2 separate regions of the Homo sapiens genome follow, and region 2 is linked to region 1. Evidence: fine-mapped expression QTL. A gene starts in region 1. The other region holds a variant in brackets. All regions are shown on one strand. Distances are from middle to middle. Region 1 holds the start of SOST (sclerostin). Region 2 overlaps LINC02594 (long intergenic non-protein coding RNA 2594).

What was found.
Region 2: its variant is fine-mapped to the expression of SOST in prefrontal cortex (GTEx, PIP 0.96).

Annotation. Positions count from the first base shown.
Region 1 is chr17:43,757,218-43,760,121 of GRCh38, reverse strand. SOST (sclerostin) reads left to right here and starts at 1,331. Exons shown (of 2, transcript NM_025237.3): 1 at 1,331-1,600. The coding sequence starts at 1,381.
Region 2 is chr17:43,696,050-43,698,953 of GRCh38, reverse strand. All of the region lies in intron 3 of LINC02594 (long intergenic non-protein coding RNA 2594), which reads right to left. Among named protein-coding and RNA genes, the nearest start is that of LINC02594, 33 kb to the right of the region's middle. The variant C/T (reference allele first, on the strand shown) is at 1,279.

The DNA of each region.
Region 1 (2,904 bases):
GACACAGCGACTTGCAAGTTGAGGCAGGTGGCAAAGGACTTGCAGAGGCTCTGCAGGTGGGGCATGCTGATTCATTGCCCAGTTAAAATACCAGAGGATCTGGGCAGCCTCTTCACAGGAGCTGCTTGTCCTCAAACAATCTGTCTTCAATGAAAGATTCCTCTGGCCTTCCTTTCTCTTCTTGCACCTCAGGTGTGAATCCTTCTCCCCCACGCCTCTACCTGCCCCCCCGCCCCCCGCCCCGGCCCTGTGTGGCTCATTATATGCAGGGCCAAGGCAGCATTTTCTCTTAGCTTCTTTGTGACCACTTGGTCCTGGGATGGCTTCATGGAACACATCCTGTGGTGTGCACCAATGAAGCTTTCCATACAGGACTCAAAACTGTTTTTGAAAAATGTAACCAGCTGGAAGACAAGAAAATAAAATGTCAGCACTAAAAACGCTGGCTGTGGCTTTTGCTAAGGAAAGGAATTTGGTGTTGTCTTCTCACACACACAGACTGGTTGGGGAAATGACTGTCTTCAGCACATCACCCTGCGAGCCACAGTGAGTGCCCTGGCTCAGAAGTGCCTGTCACAGTGCACAGGATCCCTGAGGAGCATGAGCTGGGATTTCCTCTGTGCTGTCCACCACAGGAGCCTGAGTGACCAGCGCATCCTCGATTTGTAACCAGAATCCTGCCCTCTCTCCCAAGCGGGCACCCTTGCTCTGACCCTCTAGTTCTCTCTCTTGCCTTCCAGAGAATACCAAGAGAGGCTTTCTTGGTTAGGACAATGAATGCTGAGACTTGTGGAGTTGGGACCAATGGGATTTCTTTAAAAGCATCTTTTTGCCTCTGGCTGGGTCTATGGGGGTCAAACAGAAACGCCTTGGGCCATTTGTTGGTGGGGTGACAAATGAACTTGGCCTGAGAAATGGAATAGGCCGGGCTCAGCCCCGCGAAGCACTCAGAACTGCACATTTTCTTTGTTGAGCGGGTCCACAGTTTGTTTTGAGAATGCCCGAGGGCCCAGGGAGACAGACAATTAAAAGCCGGAGCTCATTTTGATATCTGAAAACCACAGCCGCCAGCACGTGGGAGGTGCCGGAGAGCAGGCTTGGGCCTTGCCTCACACGCCCCCTCTCTCTGGGTCACCTGGGAGTGCCAGCAGCAATTTGGAAGTTTGCTGAGCTAGAGGAGAAGTCTTTGGGGAGGGTTTGCTCTGAGCACACCCCTTTCCCTCCCTCCGGGGCTGAGGGAAACATGGGACCAGCCCTGCCCCAGCCTGTCCTCATTGGCTGGCATGAAGCAGAGAGGGGCTTTAAAAAGGCGACCGTGTCTCGGCTGGAGACCAGAGCCTGTGCTACTGGAAGGTGGCGTGCCCTCCTCTGGCTGGTACCATGCAGCTCCCACTGGCCCTGTGTCTCGTCTGCCTGCTGGTACACACAGCCTTCCGTGTAGTGGAGGGCCAGGGGTGGCAGGCGTTCAAGAATGATGCCACGGAAATCATCCCCGAGCTCGGAGAGTACCCCGAGCCTCCACCGGAGCTGGAGAACAACAAGACCATGAACCGGGCGGAGAACGGAGGGCGGCCTCCCCACCACCCCTTTGAGACCAAAGGTATGGGGTGGAGGAGAGAATTCTTAGTAAAAGATCCTGGGGAGGTTTTAGAAACTTCTCTTTGGGAGGCTTGGAAGACTGGGGTAGACCCAGTGAAGATTGCTGGCCTCTGCCAGCACTGGTCGAGGAACAGTCTTGCCTGGAGGTGGGGGAAGAATGGCTCGCTGGTGCAGCCTTCAAATTCAGGTGCAGAGGCATGAGGCAACAGACGCTGGTGAGAGCCCAGGGCAGGGAGGACGCTGGGGTGGTGAGGGTATGGCATCAGGGCATCAGAACAGGCTCAGGGGCTCAGAAAAGAAAAGGTTTCAAAGAATCTCCTCCTGGGAATATAGGAGCCACGTCCAGCTGCTGGTACCACTGGGAAGGGAACAAGGTAAGGGAGCCTCCCATCCACAGAACAGCACCTGTGGGGCACCGGACACTCTATGCTGGTGGTGGCTGTCCCCACCACACAGACCCACATCATGGAATCCCCAGGAGGTGAACCCCCAGCTCGAAGGGGAAGAAACAGGTTCCAGGCACTCAGTAACTTGGTAGTGAGAAGAGCTGAGGTGTGAACCTGGTTTGATCCAACTGCAAGATAGCCCTGGTGTGTGGGGGGGTGTGGGGGACAGATCTCCACAAAGCAGTGGGGAGGAAGGCCAGAGAGGCACCCCTGCAGTGTGCATTGCCCACGGCCTGCCCAGGGAGCTGGCACTTGAAGGAATGGGAGTTTTCGGCACAGTTTTAGCCCCTGACATGGGTGCAGCTGAGTCCAGGCCCTGGAGGGGAGAGCAGCATCCTCTGTGCAGGAGTAGGGACATCTGTCCTCAGCAGCCACCCCAGTCCCAACCTTGCCTCATTCCAGGGGAGGGAGAAGGAAGAGGAACCCTGGGTTCCTGGTCAGGCCTGCACAGAGAAGCCCAGGTGACAGTGTGCATCTGGCTCTATAATTGGCAGGAATCCTGAGGCCATGGGGGCGTCTGAAATGACACTTCAGACTAAGAGCTTCCCTGTCCTCTGGCCATTATCCAGGTGGCAGAGAAGTCCACTGCCCAGGCTCCTGGACCCCAGCCCTCCCCGCCTCACAACCTGTTGGGACTATGGGGTGCTAAAAAGGGCAACTGCATGGGAGGCCAGCCAGGACCCTCCGTCTTCAAAATGGAGGACAAGGGCGCCTCCCCCCACAGCTCCCCTTCTAGGCAAGGTCAGCTGGGCTCCAGCGACTGCCTGAAGGGCTGTAAGGAACCCAAACACAAAATGTCCACCTTGCTGGACTCCCACGAGAGGCCACAGCCCCTGAGGAAGCCACATGCTCAAAACAA
Region 2 (2,904 bases), 61 kb after region 1:
GCCAGATCCAGTGGAAAGGACTTAGACATTTATTGGACTTGGACATCATCTCGTATAACTTGTTCCTAGCTGTCTGATGAAAGAGCGGACATGCAGAAAGGGCGCTGGCTGAGCTCCCTGGTTTGGGATGAGTACTGGCAGTGCCAATGTCAGCCACATTCAAGCCAGTGTTCCAGGGGCCTTCTCTCAGTCTCATGCTCCTGCTTTTCCTTGAGATTCTCCCCTCTCTTGTCCCCTCCCTATCTTGGCTCTCTACCCACCACCCCAACACCTCCAGCTCCCCCTCTGCTCCCCCTTTTGCTCCCCTGGACCTTCCTGGCTCTCGGCCTTCAACCCTCAGCCCTCAGCCCCTTTGGCTCTCAAGGTGGGGACCACTCCCACCTCTCCAGCCCTGTCTTGGAGCCCTGGGCATTCTGTCACTAGCTCTCTGCTTGGTCCTGTCCCTCAGGTGGCCTGTGGTCCTTTCACACTGGACATGCCTCAAACGGAGCCCATCGCGAGGGGAAGGGCTCTCAGGGACTATCTGAAACCTCGGGAGCTTCGTAGACCCCTCTACAAAGGGGAGCCAGTGGCCCAGCCAGTGGCTTTATTTTCCTAAGATACTGATTTCAACATGTCACTCCCCAGCCTTCTGTCTTGGATGGCAGCTCTTCTCTATGGGATGAAGGAACCCTCCTCGGCCCAGCACTGAAGGTCTTCTACCGTCTGGTCTCAGCTCACCTTTGCATCGGCTCCCACCGCCAGCCAAGCTGGATGCCCTCCCACCCCATGCCTCAAGCACACCCTGCTTCTAGGTCCTTACTCACAGGGCCCTTTGCTCAGTGGGAGTTTGCTGAGGGCCCACTGTGTGCGGGCGCTTTCCAGGGTGCTAGGCACAGAGGAGCAGCTGGCAGACTTACATTCGTAGAGCACACTCGGGTGCCTCTGCTGCGCCTCCCTGCACCTCCCCTTCCTTCCCTTCCCTCAAGGCTGGTCACCTATGGCCTCCACGACCAATGTCTCCCTGCTCCTTGGTCATTGGGAAGGTAAGCATACCTTGCCTTGTGTCTGATTGTTCTTTTAAATGAAGATTTCCATTTTTAACTATAGAAGTGACACATCCTCATTGTGAAAAATATGTAGAATGTGGAAAAGAAAGAAGCAAAAGAAGTTATATAACCTGGCTAAGAACATGGAGAAGCTTCTCTTAAAAAGAGGTGTCCTCAGCTGCTCGCCTTCCACACGCCTTCCTCACAGAGGAGGCAGCCTTGATTCCTGGGTGGGAAATGCCAAAAATGA[C/T]GGAATCAAAGCCTTTTCTGGAAGCGGGCAGAGATTTCTAGGGGTGGGGAAGAGAGAATATAGAACTTAAGAGAACTGAGCTCTTGATGGAAAGTGGGGGTGGGGAACACAGAGGGGAGGCCCAGAGACTGAGAGGTCTAGGAGAACGGGTTAAAACCGAGGCCAGAGCCCCGGAAAAGGAGCCCAGAGGCCCCAGCTCTTTCCCTACTTACTTACTGTATCTGTGTGACCTTAAGCGAGTCCCTTGGTCTCTCTGAGATGCAGTATTTTCCCAAGTGAACGGGCATTGCCACACTTCACCTCCTCAGGGCGTTGTGGGGACCTTCAAAGCCGTAAAGCCCTTTGTAAATGGTAACGCCTAACACAAATAGGAGAGCACGCTGCCCTCTCTGGGTAGGCCCCTCATCTGGGTCCTGGTTCCAGTCTGGTACTGAGCCTCTGGAGGACAAGGGTCACATTTATTCCAATTTCTCTTCTGCATGCCCCAGTGCCCACTGAGCACAGTGGGAATACAAACACATTTATTATGCACTCTGCATATGACTAGAAGGAACTTTGGAGCTCAGATCCACCCTTTACACAGATGGGGAAAATCAAGGCTCACACCACAAGGTGAGCTTGGTGGTATCTTTACAACTCCAGGTAGTGACAAAACCAGGATGCAGATTCTGAGGAATGAACGAGTGAGAGAATGAAGGGAAATGGGGCAACAGTCAGCATGAGCAAGGGCTGACCTATGGTGGGTCTTAGCCTTTACTGTGCTCAGTGGCCCCACAGCACCATCGTCTCTCCAAGGAGCACGGAAGCAGCCCCCCGTGTGGGGTATGGGCACAGACCCCAGGGCCCAGGCAGGCAGGGGATGTGCCAGTGGTCCTTGCCACGGGCCACCAGCTTTGCCACCCTGCTCCAGGGCCCTGGCCTCTCCCCAGGGTGCAGGACGCCACTCCCAGGCACTCTGGCTCCGTTTCTTACCAGGCTGCTCTGGGATGGCAGCATCCCAGCATCGCTATAAATAGCATCTCTCCTGGGCCCCAGACGGCCAGTTGGCAAACACTATAATTTGCTGAAAAGTTTGGAATGTGTCTAAAAATGAAGAAGGCAAATGAGACCAGCCATGAGGGGGAGCAACCGGCGTATCCATTTCAGAGAGGGGCTGAGCCTCACTCCTGCTTCTTGCCAACTTCTTTACAAGGGCACTGCAGGCAAAGCTTCAGGGAGAGGGGACAAATATGAGTCTAGGAAAGAACTATTGTCATTTCCAGCATCAGCTGTGGCGGCTACCTCTTGTATTGGCCTCACCCCTGACCTTCCTGTCCTAACCAAAGAACGAGAGGAACTGCCACTGCTTAACCCTTTGTTGGGCTGTGCTAATGAAATTGAAGGGAACATGGTGAGCATGCGAGGACTGTGAGAGCCAGAAAGAAACCCCCAAAATAATTTCATTCAATAGTTTCATCCAAACTCTCCCAGTTTGCAAATGAGGAAGTGACTTGACAAAGGCCGGGCACCAAGTTGAAGCAGAACCAGATTTTGGCCAAGGTCCCTGGGCTCCCAGCTGGGTGCTGGGCATTGGATCCCAGGCCTGCTGTGAGGGCTGGCTCTCTTAGGGAAAGGGGAAGGGTCCCA